Linked DNA regions of Homo sapiens. The protein of the gene in region 2 purifies or fractionates together with the protein of the main gene of each other region. This does not show direct contact. Each region holds a gene or a part of one and is shown on either strand. Other genes may lie near its edges. The genes, in order: PPP2R2D, ECSIT, TIMMDC1 and NDUFAF4.

Region 1 (7,024 bases), on a different chromosome or scaffold from region 2:
CTAAGACAGTGAACCCCCTGCACACCCGCAAGTCACTAAGACAGTGAACCCCCGCACACTCGCAAGTCACTGATAAGACAGGGACCCCCCCCGCAAGTCACTGCTAAGACAGTGAACCCCCCACACACACCCGCAAGTCACTGATAAGACAGGGACCCCCCCCGCAAGTCACTGCTAAGACAGTGAACCCCACACACACACCCGCAAGTCACTGCTAAGTGAACCCCCTGCACACCCGCAAGTCACTAAGACAGTGAACCCCCCGCACACCCGCAAGTCACTAAGACAGTGAACCCCGCACACCCGCAAGTCACTAAGACAGTGAACCCCCACACACCCGAAAGTCACTAAGTGAACCCCCCCGCACACCCGCAAGTCACTAAGACAGTGAACCCCCCGCACACCCGCAAGTCACTAAGACAGTGAACCCCCCGCACACCCGCAAGTCACTAGTGAACCCCCCGCACACCCGCAAGTCACTAAGACAGTGAACCACCCGCACACCCACAAGTCACTAAGACAGTGAACCCCCCCGCACACCAAGTCACTAAGACAGTGAACCCCCGCACACCCACAAGTCACTGCTAAGACAGTGAACCCCCGCACACCCGCAAGTCACTAAGACAGTGAACCCCCGCACACCCGCAAGTCACTAAGACAGTGAACCCCCCCCACACATGCAAATCACTAAGACAGTGAACCCCCCGCACACCCGCAAGTCACTAAGACAGTGAACCCCCGCACACCCGCAAGTCACTGCTAAGACAGGGACCCCCCAAGTCACTGCTAAGACAGTGAACCCCCCCGCACACCCGCAAGTCACTGCTAAGACAGTGAAACCCCCTGCACACCCGCAAGTCACTGCTAAGACAGTGAACCCCCCCGCACACCCGCAAGTCACTGCTAAGACAGCGAACCCCCCTGCACACCCGCAAGTCACTGTTAAGACAGGGACCCCCTGCAAGTCACTGGTAAGGTGGTGAACCCCCTGCACACCCGCAAGTCACTGCTAAGAGAGTGACCCCTCTGCACACCAGCAAGTCACTGCTAAGACAGGGACCCCCCTGCACTGTGTTGCCACTCTGGAAAGAAAGATGGTCTCCTATCCCATCCCCAGTTGGGGTCCTCACTTGCTAGAGTACATATGTGTCATCCCCACACACATTTATATTTTGTATACAGATTTTTTTTGTTTTTTTTTGAGACAGAGTCTCACTCTATCGCCCAGGCTGGAGTGCAGTGGCACAATCTCAGCTTACTGCAACCTCCACCTCCAAGGTTCAAGCGATTCTCCTGCCTCAGCCTCCTGAGTGGTGGGATTAAAGGCATGCACCACCATGTCCGGCTAATTTTTGTATTTCTAGTAGAGATGGGGTTTCACTATGTTGGTCAGGCTGCTCTCGAACTCCTGACCTCGTGATCCGCCCTCCTCAGCCTCCCAAAGTGCTGGGATTACAGGTGTGAGCCACTGCGCCTGGCCAATAGTTACAGATTCTTAAAACAAAACCGTCTTGTATGTCTTAAACATGTTGTATGTCATTGCACCGTACGCATTCCTCCTGAATTTTCTTTGTGGATTATCTTTGTGAGATCCACCTAGGTGATCCATGTAGTTCTAATAATTGATTCTCACTGCTTTTCAGTATATGTTATGATAGAGAACAACTTACCTGTCCATTCCTCTAATGATGCACCTGTGGGCTGTCTCCAGTTGTTTGCTATTTCAGGTATCTGAGCACGTTTTCTTGTCTGAACATGCAAGAAGCTCCCAACCCGACTGAATGTCACCAAGGAGGTCACAAGAAGGGTACTGGGTAAGACCACTGGTCTCCACCCTCTCCCCCAAACCATCATCATTCTGATGGGCATGAAAGGACGTCCCTCTGGCTTTACTTGCTGATCACTAAGAAGGATGAGCATTTCTATTTATTTTTCCATTTCTGCGAAACCCCATTCATGGTTTTTGCTCTTTTCTGAGTTGTTTGCCACCTTCTTGTTGACAACTAATTCTGCACCTATTCTGGATACTTAATCTCTGTTCGTTATCCTTTTGTGGATTTTGTTTTCACTTTTAATTTCAATATAAAGAAGTTTAAAATTTAATGTAGTTGAATTTCTTAATGTTTTCCTTGGGCTTTTGGGGCCTTCTTAAAGAAGCCCTTGTTTCCAGAGCTCACAAAGATGTCTTAGGCTTAGAAACACTCAGAGCTTATTTATTTATTGTGTGGGGCTGGTGAGGGCTCTAATTTTTCTCCCCCAAACACAGATAACTAAGGCCGTCCAGGTGGCAGAGCTTCAGAGTTTGCACTGCTCTTCCCTGCAGGCTGCGTTCCTCTGCCTATCTGTCTCAGCCCCTTTCTGCAGGGCCAGGCTCCCTTTACAGCTCGCTCTACTGAGTTTCCTGTTGTGATACATTGTTTCCCATTTGAAAATGCCTTTATCACAAGCAGATTCTTGAACGAGCATCTACTTCAAGGCTTGATTCTAAGCTGGCGGTGGAGAGTAAGGAGTCACACTTGCTGGATCTGTCACACGGCTTCTGGCTCCCACTGTGGCCGTGGCAAAGCCGAGTCTCAGTCTCGGTGTCCGCTCTCAGAGGTAATTTGCGTTTTTTCCTTGGGTGCATTTAAGATATTCTCTTTGCGTTTGGTGTCCTGCAATTTCATTATGAGATGGATGGATGCTGTGCTCCCGATCCTGTGTATTCAGGCTTTCATAATTTAGAGAAAATTGCTGGCCACTGTCACTTTAAGCCTCACACCCCCAAACTTTGTTTAAACGTGTGCTGTGCCTCACCCTGGCCTCCACGGTTCCTAGTGTCTCTTGTTTTCTGTTTGGCTCTTTAGCCCGCATTTCTTCTGGTTTTCCTTTCCATCCACTAATACAAGATCTGTTTAGCCAAAATGGACCTGCTGCTAAACCCACACAGTTTCATCTGTCATACTTGTCATTTCTAGATGTTCTCTGACTCCTTTCCAGTCTCCACGTCATGTTTGGCGGTCATGTATCATACTTGTCATTTCTAGATGTTCTCTGACTCCTTTCCAGTCTCCACGTCATGTTTGGCGGTCATGTATCATACTTGTCATTTCTAGATGTTCTCTGACTCCTTTCCAGTCTCCACGTCATGTTTGGCGGTCATGTATCATACTTGTCATTTCTAGATGTTCTCTGACTCCTTTCCAGTCTCCACGTCATGTTTGGCGGTCATGTATCATACTTGTCATTTCTAGATGTTCTCTGACTCCTTTCCAGTCTCCACGTCATGTTTGGCGGTCATGTATCATACTTGTCATTTCTAGATGTTCCCTCTGATTCCTTTCCAGTCTCCAGGTCACGTTTAGCGGTCATGTGGCTCCTGGTTCAGGCTGTTTCCTTCCTCTAGTCTGTGAATATCTCAAGCATTCTTAGTTTATCTTCTTTAACTTAGGATCTCAACAGCTGCCTTCTCGGAGGTTCAGTTCTGCTGTGGTTCTGCTGACTTGCTCACGGTGGCTTTTCCTGTATGTGCTTGGTAATTTTCACCTGTGAGCTCATGTTTAGATGATTTTAATGTGACGAAATCCAGAGAGACCTGGGTGTGCTGGCAGCAGCTACCCAGCATGCGTGTTCTCACGGAGTTTGCCAATGCCATTCTCTCCACCTGGGCCACTTCTCAGGGCTGTGCTTCCAGCAAGCGGCCTTGAGGAATGAGGTCATGTCTCTTCTAGTCAAAGTGCAGGTGTGTTTACTGCCCGCTGTGAAAGCAGTGGGGTTCTCCAAGCTCAGTGTGCATCAGCCACGGCCTCAAGTGTCCACCCGTGGGGAACCCAGGCCAACGAGAGGCTCATGCTGCCAGCTGTGCCATGAGAACCCGGGAACCTCATGTCTTCAGTCAACATCCGTGAGATGCTACAGGCTGGCAGGTCAGTCTGCAAACAGAGTAGAAGCCAGATCTGGAAACACGCCGGTCCCTCCCGATGCCCGCACACAGCCCTCGTGGAGGCAGGAGCTCCACAGTGTGAGATTTTACAGATCATGATGTAGCTGGCACAAACCCAAACTGCAAACCCTTGTGAGGGGAGGTTTTGCTTCCACTTCTCAGGGCAGTGCTGGCCACCCCCATGCAAGGCCTCAGACAGACAAACTGCCCTTTGGACCCTATCTGCCAGTGGAGGGAGACACCATCTTCAGGGGTCCCTGTTCCAACTCTACACCTCGTGTGGGCCAAGGCTTCAGCTCTTGAAAATTACCAAGCACATACAGGAAAAGCCACCATGAGCAAGTCACCTCGTGTGGGACAAGGCTTCAGCTTTGCACCATAACCTGCTGTTCACAGGGGCAGTGGTTCCTGCTATGGGCTGATGCTCCTGAGGCCAGCCGGGGCTGCAAGGCTGCTCTCGGAATAGACGCCTTCAGAGGCTGCCATTCTGGTTTCAGCTCCCTCTTAGTTTCTGGCCGTTGTGAGATTTCCCTTGCTTATCTGTGAGCTCAACTATGCACCTGAAGAGACACCTGCTGTATCATATCCAGCATTTCTAGGTGTTTATGCCAGAGGGTTTTGCAGAATATCCAGTCAATCACTTATTGCCAATAGACTCCTCTGTTCTCTTGAATTCTGAACAAAAATTCTATATAAAAATGGTGCAAGACAATCTTCCATCATCTGAAACGTAACTTTTTGCATAATAAAAAAAACGTAACTCTCAACCACACTAATCATAGCTATCTTTAAAGAATGTATACAAAATAAATTATCAAGGTACTAGAACCATCACATTATAAATTACATTGGTGTTTCAGACCAGCCATGACCACGCTGTGTCTGGGCATGACAGGCAGTGGCTCTGGGGTGTTTTCATCTACTTCTCTCCAGAAGGAAAGGCAGACTGCAACGCGGTCATTCCAGTGAGGTGAATCACTTCCCCACTTCCTTCCTTTTCACTCATTATCAGCATAATAAAAAGTAATACACTATCATTCACTAAGCATTTAACACATAGCCGGCCTGTACCTAGTGCTATACTTCTTGTCTAAATATAAATGGAATGACAAGCTAGGTGAGAAACTTGCTCAGAGATCCTATTTTCTCTACCTTGATACTATCATCCATCAATCAAAAGGTCTGGAAAACAACACCCTATGAGCGTCCTCCTCTGACGCTGGAGGACAGCTCGCCTCCCTCACTGACCTTGCACTCTCGGAAACCAGCAAGCTTGGGGCGACAGCTCATCTCCACGCAGGCCTTACCTATCCGAACCGTTCCAGCAACACTCAAACTTGTCAAAGATGCAGTCGTTCTCATAGAGAGAGCAGAGCTTGCTGCGCAGGTACTCGTGGACCTGGTGGGTCTCCACCGGCCTGCTCTCCATGTTGAGGTCCCACACCTTCACCGACAGGTAGTCTCTGGTCATCATGTACCGCCCACTATGACTGAATTTTACATCGGATATGGATGAAATTATTTCTGAGAAGAAGGACCTACTGCTGGGATCTTCAGGCTCTTCAAAAACTGAAAAACAAAATAAAATGTTTTCAGCTTCTGTTTAAAAATCAGAGAACAAATCATTTTCAAGTTCAAGTAGGAAGTGGCCCCTTCAGAGAGACTCTGGAAGGGCTTGGCCTCAACACTAGGTCTTCTGATCTTTCTGATTCTCTAGGTTTTCTGATCTTCTGTGACTTCCGTGGGCAAGAGCTTCGGATAAGACATTCTAGCACCAGCTATGGACAAGGGATGGGCATGAGAAGCGTAGACGCCCAAGTCTCACCCGGACCCTGAATGAGAATCTCTAGGCAAGGTCCTGGGCACTGCCATCTGTGGGAGCTCCTCGGGGCATCCTGATGTGTGCCCAGGTTCAGCACCACCGCATTCCTGTAGGAGTGTCTCCGCGTCCTCATGGCACCAGGCCCGAGCACGTGAAATTCTATCGCATACACATCACAGGAAGACACAAACAGCATTATATGGTCATGCAGACACAGCGGTCTGTGCCTCTAAGAAACTGCCTGCTTTTTGGAGGGTCGACAGTTTGTGGGTCTGCAGGAGTGACCACCTTGACTGGCAACGCTGTGGTCCTGATTTTAACCACCAAGACGGTCCCGCCGGTCAAAGCCAGCCAGCCAAGGTTTGTCTCCAATACTGAATATACACAAGCTCTACTGTGACAAAACTGGATTCCTATTTTCAGAAAGATCCTCCCGCCTCAACCTCCAGGGTAGCTGGGACCACAGGTGAGCACCACTGCACCTGGCTTGTGCTTCCTTGACCTGAAGCTGCTTTAGGTTTTTTCTCTTTTTTCTTGATGCAGGAGCCTGTGTTTGTCGGCTTAGCATCTGAAATTAACTTGAAGCCAGCTGTGCCGACGCCAAGCATTTACTCAAATAAATCACTCTGATGACAAATAGAACTGGAATCTGAAATTATTTACTCAAGAATTTTATGCTTAAGATACAGGCCAAATGCTACGAAACACTCATCCTCATCGCAGGAATTCTAGTAGAAATACGAATTCTTAAAAACACACTCAACCTCAGGAAAGAGAACAGGCGAAAAGGCTGCTGCACACGGTCCATGGGCACATTCCACCGAGGCACTGGGGGCGCCGCTGCACATGAGCAGCGGCTCAGTCTGGTGGGATTGACTGGCGGCTTCCCCATCAGAGGAAGTCACTGGACGTGTGTCTACCTGCTGGCACTGGAGGAAGGGTCAGCAATGTTTCAGGACACTGGGACACGCTGACTACAGTGCTCTATAAAGTCAAGCCCATTCTTTATGGCTAAAAATAAAAACAAAACCAGAACCTCCCTCACCTAAAAGGAGCTTGAAAGCTCACTGGATTAAAATGCTAGACTTTCAGCTAAGGGAAGTGGCTTCCAATCCAGCCAAGCTCAACATGAACAGGAGCTCATTCCAACAGCTGGGAATGGCCTCCTGTGTGCTGGCGGCCTCAGCCCAGGTCTCACGCACAGAGGCAGAGGCAACGGGTGGCTCTTGGCGGGACTCAGTGCTGGCAGCCTCTGAGGAGACACCCAGGCTCTGGGCAGA
Region 2 (7,024 bases):
TGAGCTCACGAGTTTGAGACCAGCCTGGGCAACATGGTGGAACCCCATTTCTACAAGAAATACAAAAATTAGCCGGGCGTGGTGGTGTACGACTGTAGTCCCAGCTACTTGGGAGGCTGAGGTGAAAGGATGGCTTCAGCCTGGGAGGTGGAATTTGCCGTGAGCCAAGATAGTGCTACTGCGCTCCAGCCTGGGCAACAGAGCCAGACCTTGTCTCAAAAAAAATATGAAGAGGTCTGAGGGGCTTGTTTGCCCCTTATATTATGTGAGGACACAGCAAGGTGTCATCTTTGAAGCAGAGAGCAAACCCTCACCAGACCTAGATCTGGTGGCACCTTGATCTTGGACTTCCCAGCCTCTAGAACTGTGAGCAATAAATTTTTGTTGTTCATCAATGACCCAAGCTAAGAGATTTTGTTAGAGCAGCCTGAACGGACTGAAGCAGAGGTCACTCAAGCTGTGCTAGCAGTAAGGACCATGGGAACCTACCAGGGGACTCAGCCAGAGAATCAGAACTCAATTCACGGCCAGGCACAGTGCCTCATGCCTGTAATCCCAGCACTTTGGGAGGCCGAGGCAGGAGGATTGCTTGAGCCCAGGAGTTCAAGGCCAGCCTGGGCAATATAGTGAGACCCTGTCTCTGAAAAAAAAAAACAGTTTTTTTAATTAGCCAGGCATAGTGGTGTGTGACTGGAGTCCCAGCTACTCAGGAGGCTGAGGTGGAAAGATCGCTTGAGCCTGGGAGGCAGAGGCTGCAGTGAGCCGAGATAGTGCCACCACACTCCAGCCTGGGCAACAGAGCAAGACCCTGTCTCAAAAAAGAACTTGATTCACCACAATCACTAGAGTGAGAGAAGGGGAGCCCAGGGGAGGAATGGCGGGAGCCTGGCCTGGGGTGGCAGCTGACGCTGTAGACAAGGGCGGATACCTGGTAGATGGTGACCCTGGCACTAAGGTCAGGCTCCATGTGCCGCAGGCCAAACATGGCCAGCTCCACAGGGTCCTGGGGCAGGTCCCGGGGCACTGGGAAGGGGTTGACGTTCATGAATCGAGGGAACCACAGCTTCAGGCGCACCAACTTGAGCATGGGGTAGCTTTTGCGTCCAAAGATCTGAATCAGCAGGAACTCCGTCTCCTTGTTGGGCATCACACCTGTGCTGGGCAGATGCAGGCAGAACCTCAGAGATGGAGGGGGAGGAGGGAAGGGAAGAGGAGAAAAGAAAACAGTGAAGTGAGGGAATTGATCACAGACAGGGAGAAAAGAATCAGAGAGAATTAGAAAGAAAAAGGCTCATGCCTGTAATCCCAGCACATTGGGAGGCCAAGGGGAGAGGATCACTTGAGTCCAGGAGTTTGAGAGCAGCCTGGGCAACATAGTGAGACCCCATTTCTAAAAGAAAGAGAGAAAGAGAGGAAGGAAGGGAGGGAGAGAGAGGCAGGGAGGAGAGGAGAAGAGAGGAGAGTGGGGGGAGGAGAGGGAGGGAGGGGGGAGGGGAGGGGAGGTCAGAGGGAGGCAAGAAAGAGAGATGAGTGATGAAAAGAGGGATTCGGAGAGGGAGAAGAGCGAGAGAGACAGAGACGGAGCCATGGAGGAAGGAGGGGCTGAGACTCAGGAGAGGTGCTGCCAGCTATCAGTGTAGCCCACTCCCCACCCTGCGCCAGCCTCCTGGCCTCACCGTGGTTCTCCATCTGCTCCAGGACAGCAATCCCACACTCCTGCTGCCGAGGGTAGTGGACGAAGATGCGCTGGATGATGTTGCGAGGCCGGAAGACCTCCTTGGGGAAGATGTTGAGCAGCTGGTTGTACACAGCCAGGTCCCGCTCGACACCATACTCCCGCATCTTGCGCAGGGCCAGGTAGATGAAGTCAATGTGGCCCCGCTTACGCACGCTGTGCTCCGCAAATTTCTGCACCGTCTGCAGGAAGCTCGCCTTGTCCCGTTCCCCACCAGGCGCCTGCCCAAACAGGTCCTCAAAGGGCACCAGAGCCTTGGTGGGCCTCTGCCGGGGTTCCGGTGGGCTGGGAACCAGGGACTGTTCAGAGCTATGGGCAGCTGCGCTGCAGTGGAGGCCCCGAGGGAGCCGGCGAGGGACCTGGGGAGGGAGGAGAACTGCTGGAATCTGGCACCTCTCAGTGTCTATGGGGGGCCGCCAGGCTGGCTCTTTCCTCAGAGAGGTCCCAGTGGCCTCCCTGAGGACTCGGAGGTATGGAACTGTGGTTACAAACCCAAGATTCGAGGCCATTACAAAGTGCGATAAAACACAATGCTGGCACAGTAGGGAGGAAACAGGCACTGTTAGCCATGGCTACGGGGAGCTGGTAAAAACTGCCACGGAGGCAACTTGGTAATATTCACAGTGATGACACACACATGCCGGTTTTTTTTTGGGTTTTTTTTTTTGGTTTTTTTTTGAGACGGGGTCTGGCTCTGTGGCCTAGGCTGGAATGTAGTGGTGCTACTGTGGCTTACTGCAGCTTTCAACTCCTGGGCTCAAGCAATTCTCCTCCTCACCCTGTCCAGCAGCTGGAACTACCGGTGTACACCACCACACCTGGCTAATTTTTAAATTTTCAGCAGAGACGGGAGTCGCACTATTTTGCCCAGGTTGGTCTTGAACGCCTGGCTTCAAGTGATCATCCCGTCTCCACCTCCCAAAGTGTTGGGATTACAGACATGAGCCACTGTGCCTGGTGGCCCTTTTTGCTTGTAATTTTTTTTTTTTTTTTTTAGACAGAGTCTCATTCTGTCACCCATGCTGCAGCGCAGTGGCGTGACCTCAGCCCACTGCAACCTCTGCCTCCCATGTTCAAGCGATTCTCATGCCTCAGCCTCCCAAGTAAGCTGGACTACAGACGTGCTCCACCACGCCCTGCTAATTTTTGTATTTTTAGTAAAGATGGGGTTTCATCATGTTGGCCAGGCTGGTCTCAAACTCCAGGCCTCAAGTGATCCACCTGCCTCAGCCTCCCCAAGTCTTTTTTTTTTTTTTTTTGAGACAGAGTCTCGCTTTGTCACCCAGGCTGGAGTGCAGTGGCGCGATCTCGGCTCATTGCAAGCTCCACCTCCCGGGTTCACGCCATTCTCCTGCCTCAGCCTCCTGAGTAGCTGGGACTACAGGCGCCTGCCACCACGCCCAGCTAATTTTTTGGATTTTTAGTAGAGACGGGGTTTCACTGTGTTAGTCAGGATGGTCTCGATCTCCTGACCTCGTGATCCGCCCGCCTTGGCCTCCCAAGTGCTGGGATTACAGGCATGAGCCACCGCGCCCGGCGTAGCCACCTTAAGTCTTGAGATTACAGGCATGAGCCACTGTACCCAGCCCCTTCTTTCTTTTTCTTTTTTTCTTGAGACAGAGTTTCACTCGTCGCCCAGGCTGGAATGCAATGGTGTCATCTCAGCTCACTGCAACCTCTGCCTTGTGGGTTCAAGCGATTCTCCTGCCTCAGCCTCCCAAGTAGCTAGGATTACAGGCGCCTGCCACCATGCCCAGCTAATTTTTATGTTTTGTTTGTTTGTTTTTCCTGAGATGGAGTCTCGCTCTGTTGCCAGGCTGGAGTGCAGTCACACGATCTCAGCTCACTATAACCTCTGACTCCCTGGTTCAAGCAATTCTTCTGCCTCAGCCTCCCAAGTAGCTGGGATTACAGGCACATGCCACCATGCCCAGTTAACTTTTGTATTTTTAGTAGAGACAGGGTTTCACCATGTTGGCCAGGCTGGTCTTGAACTCCTGACCTTGTGATCCGCCCACCTCGGCCTCCCAAAGTGCTGGGATTACAGATGTGAGCCACCATGCCCGGCCTAATTTTTGTGTTTTTAGTAGAGACGGGGTTTCACCATGTTGGCCAGGATGGTCTCGAATTCCTGACCTAAGGTGATCCACCCACCGTGGCCTCCCAAAGTGCTGGGACCCTTTAAGAGATGGAGTCTAGCTATGTTGCCCAGGCGGGAGTGCAGTGGCTATTCACAGGCATGAGCCAACTGGTCAGCACAGGAGTTTTGACCTGCTGTTTCCAACCTGGGTCAGTTCACACTTCCTTAGGCAACCTGGTGGTCCCCCAAGTCCCAGGAGGTCACAATATTAAGCAAAACTTAGTGCAGGACACTCCATCAGCATAGTGCACAACAGCCCAGAACTCCTGGGCTCAAGTGATCCTCCCACCTCAGCCTCCAGAGTAGCCAAATTCTGGTTCTAGATGACACAGTAACAAATTTCTTATTTTAAATTGAATTTTTAAATTAGAAGGGTTACATATAAGGCATCTTAAAAATATACAGCTAGTTATCAAGGTTGTACTGTGCTTTGATTGCACCACCGCATTGCAGCCTGGGCAACATAGTGAGACTCCATCTCTCTATGAAAAAATAAAAAAATAAGCGGGGCGTGGTGGTGTATACCTGTAGTCCCAGCTACTCAGGAGGCTGAAGCAGGAGGACTGCTTAAGCCCAGGAATCCCAGGCTGCAGTGAGCTATGATTGTGTCACTGCACTCCAACCTGAACGAGAGAGTAAAACCTTATCTCTAAAAAATAAATGAATGTGTGTGTGTTTATCTACACACACACACACACACACACAAAACGCTAACAAGTAAGAGCCAATATTAGTCCAGGCTCGGTGGCTCACACCTGTAATCCTAGCACTTTGGGAGGCTGAGGCGGGCAGATCACCTGAGGTCAGGAGTTTGAGACCAGCCTGGGCAACCTGCTGAAACCTCATGTCTACAAAAAAATACAAAAATTAGCCAGGCATGGTGGTGAATGTATGTAGTCCCAGCTACTCAGGAGGCTGAAGTAGGCAGATCAATTGAGACTGGCGGGTCGAGGTTGCAGTGAGCCAAGATCACGCCACTACACTCCAGCATGGGCAACAGAGCGAGACCCTATCTCAAAAGAAAGAGACAATATTTACCAAATATTCTTCCACTGTAGACACAGTTGAGCACTTTACAAATGTGAGGCCCTAGGTGGGGGGTACTCTTACTGCACTCATTTTACAGATGAGAAAAACCAAGGCTCAGGAAGATGAAGTGGGATGCACAGTGTTACACAGCTGCAAAGCATCAGAGCTGAGAATGGAGTCAGTGCCCTCAGTCCCCCTACTCTGCGGTCCCCACAGCCATCCCATATCGTTCTTTGATAAGGCAATGTTAAAAAAAAAAAAAGGCATTCATTTACAGTAAAATTTCAGGTTGGGCGCAGTGGCTCGTGCCTGTAATCCCAGCACTTTTGAGAGGCGGGTGGATCACTTGAGGTCAGGAGTTTGAGACCAGCCTGGCCAACATGGTGAAACCCCATCTCTACCAAAAATGCAAAAATTAGCCAGGTGTGGTGCCGCACACCTGTAATCCCAGCTACTCAGGAGGCTGAGGCAGGAAAATCACTTGAACCCGGGAGGCAGAGGTTGCAATGAGCTGAGATCACGCCACTGCACTCCAGCCTGGGTGACAGAGGGAGACTCCATCTCAAAAACAAAAAACAACTGAAATTTCAGTCAATTAATAATATAGGTGGTGTAGTATTGTACCACTTTGGGGTAAAAATCAGAAAGGAAGCTCTAAAATGCCTAACGAGGGGGAAACACTGCAAAGGAGGTAATGTAAATGAAATGCATAGTGCGGGGCCGGGCACAGAGTAAGTGCTCAATATGGGAACTATTAATATTCCCACCATCATCGTTATTGCTATCTATGGCTGTCAATCTGCTTTCGCCATCTGGTCACTATGGGTATAGGAAAGAAATTCAGTTTTCTGCCCCATCTTCACAAGTAGATGCAGGAGGAGCTGCTCACAGTCACCACACAAATCCACCGAGCTCATACATCCTTATTTTCAAAGTCAATCCCCTCACCCACGTAGGCACTAGCATCTCTTAAATTAGGGTCCAGGCACAGTGGCTCACACTTGTAATCCTAGCACTTTGGGAGGCCAAAGTGGAAGGACTGAGGGCCCAGAGGTTCAAGACCAGTCTGGGCAACACAACAAGACCATATACTTAAAAAAAAAAAAAATTAGCGGCCGGGTGCGGTGGCTTATGCCTGTAATCCCAGCACTCTGGGAGGCCGAGGCGGGTGAATCACCTGAGGTCAGGAGTTTGAGACCAGCCTCGCCAACATGGCAAAACCGCGTCTCTACTAAAATTACAAAAATTAGCTGGGCGTGGTGATGTGCACTTGTAATCACAGCTACTCGGCAGGCTGAGGCAGGAGAATCACTTGAACCCAGGAGGCAGAGGTTGCAGTGAGCCAAGACCACGCCACTGCACTCCAGCTTTGGCGACAAGAGCAAAATTCCATCTAAAAAAAAAAAAATTAGCTGGGCATGGTGGCTCAAATCAGTGATCCCAGCTACTCAGGGGGCTGAGGTGGGAGGCTCATTTGAGCCCAGGAGTTTGAGGCTGCAGTGAGCCCTGATTCCACCACTGTACTCCAGCCTGGGTGATAGAGCAAGACCTTGTTTCAAAAAAATAAATAAATTATGGACTTTTGGCCAGGCGCGGTGGCTCACGCCTGTAATCCCAGCACTTTGGGAGGCTGACGCAGGTGGATCACTTGAGCCCAGAGTTCAAGACCAGCCTGCCCAACATGGTGAAACCCCGTCTCTACAAAAAAAATACAAAAACTAGCCGGGTGTGGTAGTATGTGCCTGTAGTCCTGGGTACTTGGGAGGATGAGGCGGGAGGATTGCTTGAACCTGGGAGGTCAAGACTACAGTGAGCTGTAATCACACTACTGCACTCCAGCCTTGGTGACAGAGACACTGTCTCAAAAAACAAACACATAAACATACATACATACATAAACTAAGGACTTTTAATGGGACCTCGGCACTGATAGGCCAGCCCAGACTCACCAGAACTGGCTTCACAGAGTGGATTCTGAAGGAGTTGGGAGCAAATCCCAAGCTTACCTCCCTCTACCCAAAAGACTGCCTGGCTGGTGCTTACCTGAGAGATGGAGGTTCCTGTGAGGGCGGCCCCGCAGGTGCCTCCCCAGGCCCTACAGAGGCCTCGGGCCAGTAGGG
Region 3 (7,024 bases), on a different chromosome or scaffold from region 2:
CCATTCAAATATCCTCTCTTCCAGCTACTTGAAAATATACAATAAATTATTAACTATAGTCATCCTACAGTGCCACAGAACACTAGAATTTATGCCTCCGATCTAGTTATAATTTTGTATTCATTAATCAATCCCTTAAATCTCCTCTTCTTATGCCTTTCCCTGTCCCCTCCTCAGCCTCCAGTAACCATAATTCTACTCTTTACTTCTATGAGCCCATTTTTTAGCTCCCACATGAGCAACAGAACATGCAGTATTTATCTTTCTGTGTATGACTTATTTTACATAACAATGTCCTCCAGGCTCATCCATGTTCCCACAAATGACAGGATTACATTCTTTATTATGGCTGAATAGTATTCTATGGTGGATATATACCACATTTTCTTTATCCATCCATCTGTTGATGGACACTGACGTTGATTCCATACCTTGGCTATTAATAGTGCTACAATAAGCATGGGGGCGCAGATAACTCTTTGATATGCTGGTTTCTTTTCCTTTGGATAAATACCTAGTAGGGAAGATTGCTGGATCTTACAGTAGTTCTATTTTTAGTTTTCTGAGGAACTTCCATACTGTTTCTATAAAGGCTGTAATAATTTGCATTCCTACCAAAAGTATATGAGTTCCCTTTTCTTTCTACATCCTTGCCAAAATTTATTTTTTGTCTTTCTGATAATAGACATTCTAATTGGGATAAATATCACTCCAATTTCCCAAACTGTCCCCAAACCACATTTCATTGTGGTTTTGATTTGCATTTCCCTGATTAGTTATGTTGAATACTTTTTCATATACTTGTTAGCACTTGTAGGTATTTTTTGAGAAATACAAGTTTCCCCCCAAGCTCCCCCGCCCACTTTTTTTTTTTTAAAGAGACAGGGACTCACTTTGTTGCCCAGGCTGGAGTGCAGTAGCACAATCATGGCTCACTGCTGCCTTGAATTACTGGGCTCAAGGGATCCTTCAGCCTCAGTCTCCCAAGTAACTGGGGCTATAGGCATGCACTACTGTGCCTAATTTTCTTTTGTCTCATGCTGTCACTCAGGCTGGAGTGCAGTGGCACCATCTTGGTTCATTGCAACCTCCACCTCCCAGGCTCAAACAATCCTCCTGCCTCAGCCTCCCACGCAGTTGGGATTACAGGTGTGCACCATGACAATTTTTGTATTTTTAGTAGAAATGGGGTTTCACCATGTCGGTCAGGCTGGTCTCGAACTCCTGACCTCAAGTGATCCGCCTGCCTCGGCCTCCCAAAGTCCTGGAATTACAAGTGTGAGCCACCGTGCCTGGCCTCCAATGCCCTTTATTTCTTTTTCTTGCCTAACTGCTCTGGCTAGGATTTCTAATACTATGTTGAACAAGACTGGTAAGAGTGGGCATTCCTATTTCATTCCAGTTCTTTGAGGGAAAAGCTTTTCACTTTTCCCTGTTCAGTATGATATTAGCTGTGAGTTTGACATATATGGCCTTTACTGTACTGAGAAATAGTCCTTCTACCCCTAACTTTTTGGGAGGTGTTACCATGAAGGGGTGTTCAATTTTACCAAATGCTTTTTCTCATTTACTGAGATGATCATATGGTTTTTTTCCTTCCTTCTGTTTATATGATGTAACACATTTATTGATTTGTGTATGCTGCACCATCCTTGCATCCCTAGGATAAATCCCACTTGTTCATGATGTATAATCTTTTTGATGTACTCTTGGATTTGGTTTGCTGGTATTTTGTTAAGGATTGTTTTGTAGAATACATTGGCCTGTAGGTTTTGTTGTTGTTGTTGTTTAATGAGCCTTTGTCTGTTTGTTGTTGTATAAGGGTAATGCTAGCCTTGTAGAATGAGTTTGGAAGAACTCTCTCATCTTCAATATTTCGGAACAGTTTGAGAATTGGTCTTAATTCTTCTTTAACTGTTTGGCAGAATTTAGCAATGAAGCCATGTGGTCCTGGACATTTCTTTGTTGGGAGACTTTTTATTACCAGTTCAATCTTGTTACTTGTTATTGGTCTGTTCAAGTTTTCTATTACTTCTTGGCTCAATCTCGATAGATTATAGGGGCTCAGGAATGTATCCATTTCCTGTAGCTTTTCCAATTTCTTGGCATACAGTTGTTTCATAATAATCTCTAATGATATGACTATGTCCGTGGTATCAGTTGTAATGTCTCCTTTTTTGTTTTTTACCTTAATTGGGTCTTTTTTCTAACTTGTGGTTTCTTGATTTTGTTTTCAAGAAACCAACTTTTCATTTAGTTCTTCTTTTGTGTTTTTTTGTTTGTTTTTAAGTCTCTATTTCACTTAGCTCTGCTCTGATCTTTTTATTTATTTCCTTCTGATTTTGGGTTTAGTTTGTTCTTGCTTTTCGAGTTCCCTGAGGTGCAGTGTTAGGTTGTTTATTTGAAACATTTCTACTTTTTGATGGAGGCATTTATTGCTATAAACTTCCCTGTTAGTGATGCTTTTGCTGTATCCCATAGGTTTTGGTATGTTGTGTTTCTGTTTTCATTTGTTTCAAGAAATTTTTAAATTTCCTTCTTAATTTTTTCATTGACCTATTGGTTGTTCCAGAGCATATTATTTAATTTCTGTGTATTTGCACAGTTTCCAAAGTCCTTCCTGTTACTGATTTCTAGTTTTATTCTGCTGTGGTCTGAAAAAATATTTGATGTTATTTTGATCTTTAAAAATTTGTTGAGACTTGTTTTGTAGCCTAACATATGGTTTATCCTGAAGAACACTTCAAGATAAGAAAAACGTGTATTTTGCAGCTGTTGGATGTGATGTTCTGTAAATGTCTGCTAGATCCATTTGATCTACAGTACAGTTTAAGTCTGATATTTCTTTGTTGATTTTCTGTCTAGATGATCTGTCCAGTGCTGGGAGTGTGGTGTTGAAGTCCCCAGCTATTATTACATTAGGGTTTATCTCTCCCTTTAGCTCTAATATTATTTGTTTAGATATATATATATATGGATGCTCTGGTGTTGGGTGCATATATATTTACAGTTGTTATTTCCTCTTGCTGAATTGATCTCTTTACCATTATATAATGACCTTGTCTCTTTTTATAGTTTTTTATTTAAAGCCTATTTTATCTAGCATAAGTATAGCTATTCCTGCTCATTTATGGTTTCCATTTGCATGAACATCCTTTTCTATCCCTTTACTTTCAGCCTATCTGTATCTTTACAGGTGAAGTGAGTTTCTTGTAGTCAGTATATATAGTTGAGTCTTTAAACTTTTTTTTATTCATTCAGCCACTCTAAATCTTTAATTGGGGAATTTAAAGTGTTTATATTCAACATTGTTATTGATAGGTGTGGATTTACTCCTGTCATTTTGTTAACTGTTTCCTGGTTGTTTTGTATAATCTTTGTTCCCCTTTCTTCCCCTCTTATTTTCATGGTTGGTAGATTTTTGTAATTATAAGGTTTGATTCCTTTCTGTATCTGCTCTACCAGTGAGTTTTATTCTTTCACGTTTCCATAATGGTAGTTACCGTGCTTTTGCATTCAGATGTAGGAGTTCTTTAAGCATTTCTTATAAGGCAGTCTAGTGGTGATAAATTCCCTCAGTGTTTGCCTGTCTTGAGAAGACTATTTCTCCTTCATTTTGGAAAAATAGCTTTGCTAGGTATAATACTCTTGGCAGGAGTTTTTTGGGTTTTGTTTGTCTGTTTGTTTGTTTTTTCCTTTTAGCACTTGGAATGTATCATCCCATTCTCTCCTGACTTGTAAGGTTTCTGCTGGCAAATCTGCTGTTAAACTGATGGGGGGAGGTAAATGGTGGCAGTGGACCCTGGATGAGCCAGTCTTCAGGGGGTGCACGTGGCAGCTCAGCCACTAGAATTGGCAGGGTTGCCAGTGGTGGAAGACTCCAGGTGAATGACCTTAGAATGGCCATAGCCAGCCATTCTTAAGCTTTTCCATCTCAAAATCACTGATCTCTAAATCACTGACAAACTTCTGCAGTTTTTAATGTTTCATTTACTTTTTTAATTTTTTTTTTTTTTTGAGATGAAGTATTGCTCTGTGGCCCAGGCTGGAGTGCAGTGGCGCAATCTCAGCTCACTGCAACCTCAATGCTTTTCTTCTCATATAGCACTTAAGTCCTTGGATGATGGACCTACAGCTCTTAAGAATTTCCGTGTGTGTGTCTGTGTGTGTGTGGTTAGCAGAAATGGAGGTTTCAAATGAAAACACTGGAAAAAAATGATTTCTCATCTATCCAATTATAATACCAAAACAGCAACAGCAGCAGCAGCCAATGCTGTCTTAGGTACCCAGGAAGGTGAACTAGTGAAAATCATTTGTACTCAGGAGCACTAGATGGCAGCCTGTTATATTCATCTTACATATTGAATCTGTGCAAAGTCAGCTATCAGTCTGATTGCCCTATCCCACAAATTGCATCCCAGGAGATGATTAGATGCAATAGGTGAAAGTTTTCATGTTCCTCAGTGGCATTCAGTGCATGAACAACCATTGTCCACCTAATTCCTCTGCATCTACAGCAAGAAATAGAATTTTTGTGGAGACTTAACATGCTGTGTCTTACTTACATATGTATGCAAAAAAAAAAAAAAAAGTCACTTTTTTTCTTTTTTGAGACCGAGTCTTGCTCTGTGGCCCAGGCTGGAGCACAATCACGGCTCACTGTAACCTCCGCTACCCAGGTTCAAGTGATTCTCCTGCCTCAGCCTCCTTGAGTAGCTGGGACTACAGGCACGTGCCACCATGCCCAGCTAATTTTTGTACTTTTAGTAGAAATGGGGTTTTGCCATGTTGGCCAGGCTGGTCTCGAACTCCTGACCTCAGGTGATCCACCTGTCTTGGCCTCCCAAAGTGCTGGGATTACAGGCATGAGCCACCCTGCTAGGCTAAGGATGTCACTTTTTAAGTAAGCCAGGTAAAGCTCACTCCTTGGTGAATATTCCCTTTAGGTAATTTCCTATGCAGTTAAGAACACAGGAAAAGAAAAAACATGCAAGCAAGATTTACACCACTTTTAACTTAAAAAGATATCCAAAGAAAGATCTTCATTAAATTAAAACTAAAATCAATCTCTTTCATTTTTCCATTCTCCTTAAATAGATTAAAAGACAATGTACAGTATGAGTTGAAGGACTTGGTAAAAATAAACTCTTCTTTGAATTGAGTGGCAGTTTAGAGTACATAAGTTTAAAAGAGCACCACTATATAAGGCCTGGGGCAAGAGAGCCAAGATTCCCTGGGCTCAACATGTTCCTTACCACTCTTCCAGTTTTAGCTCATGGAGTGCCTTTCGATCCTTCTGTTTTCTTTCCTGAACAGTCTCACCAGAGTACTTCTGAAATGCCATCAGCAGGCCTCCTACAGGAGTGCTGAGAAGAAAGGAGAGGGAAAGCTTAGGAAAAACGAGTCATTAGACCTTGCAACATGTGAGATTCTCTGCTAAGGTGTGAGCAACACCAGAGCCACTTGTTCACTATTAGGTACAGGAACATTTGAGAATTAAAGTGTCCTTGTCAAATAAAGAAAAACATTGAGGTAATCTCTTCCTTGGTCTGAACAACAGACAAAAACAATCACTACAACCTCCTAAAGTTAACTGATATATAATAAAACAACAGATCTAGAAACTGGCTGTTTTTATGAGGAATGAGAAATAAATCAAAACAAAGAGGAAAAATATATATATTTATGACAAGTTCTAGTAAGTAGCCCCACACCAAAGATTTCTCAAAAATGAAATTTCTAGTTCAGAATGGCACCAGCTCCTCTAGGAGACAGGAAATGTGGAGGGCATTTCTGGTTGAGGGAGGGATGCTACTGGCTTTTGGGGGTGGGACCACCAAAATATCCTGAAGTTCAAGAGTCTGGCGTAACTGTCTCACCCACAATGCCAATAGCAACCCATTGAGAAACTGATTTAGATAATAATTATTATAGTGATGAAGAGAGTTTGGTTCTTGTGTTCTCAGACTAGAAGTATTTGACCTTCATACACCTTAAATTTCCTCCAGCTACAATTTAAGTAACCTCATACTAATAACTATTTTTGCTAAGTGGAAGCAACATAAATGTTCACTGACAGATGGTTAAAGAAAATGTAACATACACATACAATGGAGTATTATGCAGCCTTAAAAAAGAGGGCAATCCGTTCAACAGGTTACAACATAGATAAACTTCAAGGACATTATTATGCTAAGTAAATAAGCTAGTCACAAAAGGACAAATAGTGTATGATTCCACTCATATGAAGTATCTAAAGTAGTCAAAATCTTAGAAACAGAAAGTAGAAATATATTTGCTGAGGGCTGGAGGGTATGGGGAGGGGAAATTAGTTTTTAATGCATATAGTTTCATTTCTCAAGATAAAAAAGTTCTAGAGATCTCATGCACAATGTGAATATACTTAGCATTTTTGAACTATACACTTAAAATATGATTAAGATGGTGAATGTTATGCTATGTGTTTATTACCACAATAAAAAATATTTTTGTTGCTAACTCCTACAACTTTTCCCTTCAAACCAAACTGGTATATTAACACTACAACAAAAGCAATGGCAGCAGTAGATTATGACATGCTGATTTTATTTAATTCAAATTTTTAAAAAAATCATTAAATCTATAGCATTACCTTCTCCTTCAAAGGAGGTAGACAAAGGGGTGAACAGGTGGAGGACGAAGGTAGCACTCTTCTAGTCAGACAAATACCAACTAATAAAAACAGAAGAACTGACAGAACTAGCTTATCAACATTTACAACCACCTTTCTAGTAACCAACCGATTACAGCATGGGTCGTCAATGGATCATTAAAAACACATGATGAAAAGATAGCTGGAGAGCAGAATATTCAGTTTCACCCTCCAGATTACTAATTAATCACATTGGGAAAAAGATATCTTTGCAATGGAGACACTGAACAGATAACACCTTAACCAAGTGTGGTAGGCAGAATTCTAAAGTGGTCCCCCCAAATATCCTGCCTAATCCCTCAACTGTGAATATATTATGCCCATGATTATATT
Region 4 (7,981 bases), on a different chromosome or scaffold from region 2:
CAAATTCATCTGGAAAAATATTAATGTGTGAAAAGAGACCAGAAACTTTTTAAAAGAATGAGAGAAGACTATAAGAAATATCAACACACATTATAAAGCTCTATTAATTAAAACTATGGTTCTAGTGTATAAATAGAAAAATAAGTAAAACTGATGAGTCCATAAATAGACCCATATGTGTATCTAGAGATGCATTTTAAGTAAGTGGAGAAAGGTCTGGGCTCTTCAACAAATTATATTTACACAACAAGCCATCTGTTTGAAAAGAGGTTCAACTGATCTATTCCACACATCAAAGACCACATTTAATGCCAGATAAAGATTTTAATATAAAATGTAGTTATAAAACTACTGGAAGAAAATACAGAAGAGTTTATATGATGGTAGAGTGGGCCCAGTATTCCTTTACCACAAAAGGCAAAAAGACTGAAATATTTGACAGAATTTTGAATAAATATGTTAAAAAGTCAGACAACAAATAAATTATTTGCCATATGAAAGGCACAGTATCAATGATGTCTAGAGGCATCACAACCATGAACTGCCCGAAGGAAAAAAAGGGACACAGAACATAAACAAAAGGCAATTCCAGTTTTCATTATCACTCTCCCTAAGGAATCTAGACTTTTCCTAATGTCCCCATGAAATTTTAATATCACTATATACGTATCTCTTTACGCATTATATGTATAACTGAGTCTTATACATACAAAGCATTAATTTTTTTTTGCTCCCAAGAGTGAATTTTCAGATGCATAATTAAGTAACATGAGAGAAAGAATACTTGGGGAGTATTACTCAACACCTATTTTAAAATGACGTAAGAACACAGACATTAACCCTATACTTTTTTCATGTGAGCATGTGGTGATAACTGAACCCTACAATTACTATGTGCAGCGATTAACAAATCTTGTTTTATTTCTCCTCTGTAGTGAAAATTATATTAATAATTCTATCTGTGCAAATATCCAGAGAGAGAGGGACAGTACCAGAATATTTTAGAATGAAAAAAAAAATCTGGAAGTTGTTGGCACTTCCTTGGCCTTTAATCAAACTTTACCCCTAACTAGAATCTTCCTGCCCCCAAAAACTCATCTGGTTAACTCCAACTGATCCCTCCTCAGGCCTGAACATAACTATCACTTCCTCAGAAACCATCCTTGATCCTCCCATTTCAAAGAGGTCCCTCCAATATACTCAGCAGTGCACGTACTTTTCCCATAATTATGGTCACATTGTTGCTCATTTGTTTAATGGCTGTGTCCTTCACAACATCATAGGCCCTGTGAAAATAAGGACTAGTTTTGTTCATCACTATATACAAAGCACTTGTGCCCAGGACTTACATAATACAGAATATGGATTTACACATAGGTTCCCATTCCTAATGTATTCTTTGATCCTTCTAATTTTAAATATCCTATCTGAATACATCCTTAAAAAAACAAACAGGAACACCCCACAAAATCCAACAACACCACTTACTAAAGGAGTCTCTGAGATTAGAACATACCTCAATCCACAGAAGAATGAGAAAATAATATTAAAGCTCTGCTTTTGTCACTCAAATGACAACCACTGGAAGTAATGCCTTACCAAATCCTACAAATTCTGAAATACTATGAAATAATTCACACAGTTGCTTGTATCAATACTTCCACAAGTTATTTTAGAATTCTGGTAAATATCCAGTGAACCAAGGCATAAGTGTCTTGCTGTCTTACACCAGTGTGCTTAAACTTTGCCAAGGCGTGTAGATTGATCACAACACACACTTGCAGAGCACTCTTTTTACTACTTGCCACACTTAATCATTTTCCTGAAGCCCCAAAATAAGTAAATTGTGTATTCACTTAATTAAACACACATTTACCTGCAAGGAAGACACAGGATCTTTGGAATCAACATACACATCTTTTAGAAACGACAGCAGCTTTTCATCTTTACGAGCAATCTCTCCTTTAACTTCTGGATAGACTAAGGAAAGGAAAAAAGTCACAATATTAAAATCAAGGAAAATTTCCTGTAATATCCTAAACGCTTAACACAAACGCTTTCTTTTATTTTCTTTTTTGAGTCGGAGTCTCGCTCTGTTGCCCAGACTGGAGTGCAGTCGCGCGATCTCGGCTCCCTGCAACCTCCGCCTCCCGGGTTCGAGAGATTCTCCCACCTCAGCCTCCCGACAAGCTGAGGCTACAGGCGCGCCACCACGCCCGGCTAATTTTTGCATTGTTTGTAGAGACGGGGTTTAGCCATGTTGGCCAGGCTGGTCTCGAACTCCTGACCTCAGGTGATCTGCCCGCCTCGGCCTCCCAAAGTGCTGAGATTACAGGCTTGAGCTACCGCGCCCGGCCTAACCACTTTAATTTTTTTAAAAAATAAACATAATCATTTGGACTGTTAGGAAAATACTTTAGATGGAAATCAAAATTCCAGGTCAGGCTCTGCGTCCATCGTCCAGTGAAGACCCCTAGAGAAAGCTCTGTGACCCTCTCGGATTTTGATTCCCTGTATCAAGTCCGTGACAGCAGCCGGCGAGGGCCTGGTTAGCGGGAGCACTGGCTGCTGCCTCTGGGTCTCGGAAGTAGGCGGGGCCGCCGACCTCACCGCGGGCGCGGAGGACAGTCTCAATGTCACCGGCCTGGCGGCTCCCCCTTCCAACGCTCCGCCAACCCGAGCGGCTGCGGCCGAGCAGGCTGACGCCGATCCCTCGGCCTCCGGACCCACGCTAGGGACAGCCGGGCAGCACAGGGACTCCGCGCCCCCGGGCCCCGAAACGCCCTCGCACCACTCACGACTAATCTGCTCTCGCAGGAGGCTGTTGGTAGAGGGGTGTCTGGGAGCGACAGAGGGCTTCATCTTGCTGATTTCCCGTTCCGCTCGGTTCTCTAGGTTGAAATTCCTGATACCGCGAATCACTAGTGCTCCCATCTCCTCATAACATTATGCGCTCAGGTTCAGGCCGCACGTGGGAACACCGGCGCAGGACAACTCCGGGACACCCGGAGCATGCGCACAAGTGAGGGGAAGCCCCGCCGCGGGCGCTTAAATGCGTGCCCGTCGCCCCCTAGCGCTCGGGAGGCCACACACCGCTTCTCTGCCCAGGGCATTTAAAAGGGAGCCCCTCCCTTCGGGGCGAGTGACGGCTCCCACGAGGGCCGCTTCCGGCGGGAGGTGGCGGGGCTTAAGTCCCCAGACCCACGGTTGCTTTTAACGCTGGAACTCCGAGGGAGTCACCCGGGAAGCTCTGTAAAGTTCTGTGCCGGGCCCTACCCCAGACTTTCTGATTTAATTCTTGTGGAGTGAGGCCCAGCATTGGATAAGACTCCACGTGATTCCAAAGTTTCAGTGAAGAGCTGAAAATCAAAGTCGTAAGGAAGTTGACCTTGAAGTTGTTTCACAGGGCAATGCCACCAAAGAGTTAGCCGATAAAAATGGAACTTACTGAACCAGGGTCAAACTGGGCTCTCAAGTTGCCCTTTCCTGCTTTTGTGAAAGGAAAATAATGAAAGGATGTTCCCTTTCGATGAGTATTTGTTCTCAGCCGCTCTCATTTAAATGCCTCTTATTTTCCTGTCCCCCCGCCTGATGCATTTTCAAGCCACTGTATTCTTTTTCCATTATTTTTTACATCCCGTTCTCATTTGACCTAATGGTATCGATTTTAGTTATACTTTCCCTTATCTTATTTTTGCTACTAATTTACTTCTCCATGCTACTAAATGCTGAGTCATTCCCTCTCCTATTTCTCTTCTCTCTTGCCTTCTTCATTCTTTTTAAGCCTCTGTGTAATTTAATGAAAGGAACAGACAATAAGACGTCAGAAAAAAAAAACAAACAAACAAAAAAACGAGTGTTACATTCACCTTCTCCGTCTCTCTCCATTTCCTGAATGGGTTACTGTAGTGCTGCTTTTATTTAAGACCCTTTAGAAATATTGTTATTAATCTAAAATAAAACCCACCAGGAAGGAAGCAGTAGGAAGGAAGTTACAGTATTTCTCTTACTGTGGCTGCAAAATCTATTTTTAGTGTTCTGATCTCTGCTTAGCAAAATGAAGTAGAGTGGATGTTTTTAACCAGCTTAAAGTAAGAAAATATTGATGTAAAGATAATCGAATAGAATAATAATAATAAAACAAGAATCAAAGAACCAAAATGAAGAAAGGGAAAGTTTTTTAAAAAGAAAACTAATGTAATCATTAAGTATAATGCTTAATCAGAGCAAAAGCACTGCAAGGAAGACGGCTTCAGCCACTCTAATTTAAATGCCCTTTATTTAATTATACTGAACATTTTTACAGGGATTGGTATTTGGAATTTATAGAAGCTGAAATCAGTGATCTCAGATAGCATTAACTGGGAAGTTATCCTGAAGGTGGCAGGCTGCTCCAAGATTTCTATCTTTGATACTTTTAAGCATGCTTGTGATTCAGGGCTTTTTAGGCACGGTATTTCTATTTCTATGGGTGCTAAGAAATTTTAATCTGCCTCATTATGTCTATGTGCTTTAATCATGGTAGCAATTCGACTCACTGCCTGTTAAAATATTTTAAAAGTGAAAATCTCATTTTCATAGAAATTCCACCGAACTTCGGGCAGTATGAAAAAGTAATGTTAGAAGTGACTGTCAGGACAGTAGGGATTACAATATGAAATAATTATTTGAATTCACACATTCCAATAGAGCTTGGATTCAACATTGAAAGAGCTTCCAGCATGTGTCAGCTGCTTTGCCTGATCCTGGCCCAGTGCTGCTCAGGCCCTCAAATTGCAAAACAGAAGGCAGATGCACTCCATCAGAAACTCACAATTGGCTGTCACCCTTTGGGAATCATGGAAATAAAACCTGAACCATAAATGCATAATTCCAGCTCTTCTTGTCAAAACATATAAATTAACAGGAACTCTGAACTTAAGAACTCCTGTTGGGCTTATGTTAAGGATTGAAGTCAGATCCCCAAGGAAAGTATAACTAGGATGCTGCTTAGAATGAAGCTTCCATCTGAGTGGAGTATTATGATGCATGTGTATGGCTGAATATCTTAAGATACTAATAAACCCAGGGTCTTGACAACACACTAGAATGTAAATTCTGAGGACAGAACTTTGTCTGTTTTGTTCACTGTTCAACACATTGAACAGCTAGTACACAGTAGGTACTAAACAATTATCAAATAAAGGTCAAATGAACTGAAAGACAAGTAGGATCCCTGAGCTGGAGTCCAGACCCCAGACAAGTTCTCTCTGCCTGAACACTAGCCCTGCTTCCAGAAGTGAGTCCTTATGCAAGTAACTTAATGTGGTTGAACACACTTTGCTCATCTTAAAATTGGGATAATAGTAATCACCTAAGGGGTTTTACACAGATTAAAAATATGTGTCTAGTACAATGCCCAGCTCAGAATCTGATGTTCAATATTTGCATTGTTTTTCATTTTTCAGAGGAGAAGGGAGCAGTTTTAAAAAGGACACATATTCTGAAGCTCTGGTGAATAGGTGAATGAAAGTGATAAAAAAATTTGAGATTACGGTAAGACTCATGTTCTTCAATAATTTAATTTTTAAAAAATAAAAAATGCTAAATTTGATTTTTATTTGCTGATTAACGTGCTCAGCACACGTGGTGGTATTGTTAGATTTATTAAGGTTGGAATATGGGTGGGAATCATTAGTTCTCGGGCATAAAATGCCACCTGCCTGTGCCTGACATTGGCCACAGAAATAGTCCCCACTTTGTTTCCCTCTGCCCTCATGTCTTTCTCTCTGCCTAGACTTTTACCATTGGGTACTCCTTCTTTTGAACATAATTCAACAGCATTCTGCGTTCTCCAAAGGATTACAGTAGCTAAACCCAGGTGACAGTTGGCTCAAGGGGCCCAGGACAGCCCTCAGAGGTTTCATCAATCAAATCTCAACCACTAGTGAGGAGCACAACAGATTTATGGAGGAATGACTTATTCTGGCAGAGGTTCTGGTGTTCAGGCAGAGAGAACCTCTCCAGGGCCTGGATTCCAGATTAGAAACCAGAGAATTTGTAGGAGTCCAACTGAAATAATTTACAAGGTTCCCAAGTTTGGCCAATTTCATAGTGATGCAGTGTTTTGGGTCTGTAAAACCTAGAATACTGGGAGCGGGGGGTAGTGCCACAAACTCAAAACCAAAACAAACTAGGCTTTGTGCAGATCCAGTATTCATATTGAGGAACACTGGGTCTCAGATTAGAGATTAGAATGATCAACCAGCAATTATGCCCAGATGCCTGCTTTGTGGTTACTGCACTCATGACTTTTGTCATTGTATTCATTTGTATTCATTTCCCATTGCTGCTAGCAAATTACCGCAAATGGTTTAAAACAAAACAATTTATTATCTTACAGTTTGGAGATCAGAAGTCCAAAATGAGATTTTTAAGGATAAAATCAAGGTGTCAGCAGAGATATATTCCTCCTGGATGCCTTTTTTTTTTTTTTACTTTAAATGGGGAAGGGGTTCTTCTAGAGACTTCCCGCATTTCTTGGCAGCCAGCAGTTGCATCACTTCATTGTCACATTTCCTTCTCTGTGACTTTCCTACCTCCCTCTTTCCATCGTAACACCCTTATGATTACATTGGACCTGCGTGGATAATCCAGGATAATCTCTCCATCTGAAGATCCTTGATTTAGTCACATTTGTAAAGTGCATTTTGCTATGTAAGGTAGCATTTGCAGGTTCAGGGATTAAGAGACATTTTTGGAAGGCTTATTGTTTTGTTCACTACAGTCATCAACTTTAGATGACGGTTTGCTGCACAGATCATCCCATCACCCAGGTATTAAGCCCAGTATCCATTAGATCTTCTTCCTGATTCTCTCCCTCCTCCCACCCTCCGACCTCCAACAGGCTCCAGTGTTTGTTGTTCCCCCTCCATGTGTGTATGTGTTCTCATCATTTAGCTCCCACTTATAAGTGAGAACATGCAGTATTTGGTTTTCTGTTCCTGTGTTAGTTTGCTAAAGATAATGGCCTCCAGCTCCATCCATGTCCCTGCAAAGGACATGATCTTATTCCTTTTTATGGCTTCATAGTATTCCATGGTGTATATGTACCACATTTTATCCAGTCTATCATTGATGGACAGTTAGGTTGATTCCATGTCTTTGCTATTGTGAATAGTGCTGCAATGAACATACATGTGCATATGTCTTTTTATTAATAATAGAACAATTTATATTCCTTTGAGTATATACCCAGTAATGGGATTGTGGGCTTGGATAGTATTTCTGCCTCTAGGTTTCTGGGGAATTGCCACACTATCTTCCACAATGGTTGAACTAATTTACACTCCCACCAATAGTGTAAAAGTGTTCCTTTTTCTCCACAATCTTGCCAGCATCTGTTTTTGTTTTTGTTTTTGTTTTGACATTTTAATAATAGCCATTCTGACTGGTGTGGGATGCTATCTCATTGTGGTTTTGATTTGCATTTCTCTAAGGATCAGTGATATTGAGCTTTTTTTCATGTTTGTTGGCTGCATGTATGTTTTATTTTGAGAAGTGTCTGGGCATGTTCTTTGCATACTTTTTAATTGGATTATTTGTTTGTTTCTTGTAAATTTGTTTATAGGCGTTGCATATTGGACCTTTGTCAGATGCATGGATTGCAAAACTTTTCTCCCATTCTGTAGGTTGTCTGTTTACTCTGTTGATAGTTTCTTTTTTGTGCAGAGCTCTTTAGTTTAATTAGATCCCATTTGCCAATTTTTGTTTTTGTTGCAATTGCTTTTGGTGTCTTCGTCATGAAATCTTTACCATGCCTATGTCCTGAATGGTATTGCCTAGGTTTTCTTCTAGGGTTTTCATAGTTTTGGGTTTTACATTTCAGTCTGTAATCCATCTTGAGTTGATTTCTGTGTATGGTGTAAGGAAGGGGTCCAGTTTTAATTTTCTGCATATTCTAGCCAGTTCTCCCAGCAACATTTATTAAATAGGGAATCCT

The links.
Region 1: the proteins of ECSIT (region 2) and PPP2R2D purify together in Homo sapiens (affinity purification with mass spectrometry; 5 studies listed by BioGRID and IntAct, with this or other methods). This does not show direct contact.
Region 3: the proteins of ECSIT (region 2) and TIMMDC1 purify together in Homo sapiens (affinity purification with mass spectrometry; 5 studies listed by BioGRID and IntAct, with this or other methods). This does not show direct contact.
Region 4: the proteins of ECSIT (region 2) and NDUFAF4 purify together in Homo sapiens (affinity purification with mass spectrometry; 4 studies listed by BioGRID and IntAct, with this or other methods). This does not show direct contact.

What each region holds. Positions count from the first base shown.
Region 1 is NC_000010.11:131,945,997-131,953,020, reverse strand, and holds part of PPP2R2D (serine/threonine-protein phosphatase 2A 55 kDa regulatory subunit B delta isoform), read right to left. Parts: intron 5,492-7,024; coding exon 5,230-5,491; intron 3,912-5,229; coding exon of another isoform or gene 3,875-3,911; exon of another isoform or gene 2,617-3,874; intron 1-2,616. UniProt on the Homo sapiens protein: Substrate-recognition subunit of protein phosphatase 2A (PP2A) that plays a key role in cell cycle by controlling mitosis entry and exit. Involved in chromosome clustering during late mitosis by mediating dephosphorylation of MKI67.
Region 2 is NC_000019.10:11,512,128-11,519,151, forward strand, and holds part of ECSIT (evolutionarily conserved signaling intermediate in Toll pathway, mitochondrial isoform 1 precursor), read right to left. Parts: coding exon 6,948-7,024; intron 2,095-6,947; coding exon 1,677-2,094; intron 1,153-1,676; coding exon 929-1,152; intron 1-928.
Region 3 is NC_000003.12:119,515,547-119,522,570, reverse strand, and holds part of TIMMDC1 (complex I assembly factor TIMMDC1, mitochondrial isoform 1 precursor), read right to left. Parts: intron 5,367-7,024; coding exon 5,256-5,366; intron 1-5,255.
Region 4 is NC_000006.12:96,894,868-96,902,848, forward strand, and holds the start of NDUFAF4 (NADH dehydrogenase [ubiquinone] 1 alpha subcomplex assembly factor 4), read right to left. Parts: upstream 3,025-7,981; 5' UTR 2,935-3,024; coding exon 2,799-2,934; intron 1,981-2,798; coding exon 1,877-1,980; intron 1-1,876. UniProt on the Homo sapiens protein: Involved in the assembly of mitochondrial NADH:ubiquinone oxidoreductase complex (complex I). May be involved in cell proliferation and survival of hormone-dependent tumor cells. May be a regulator of breast tumor cell invasion.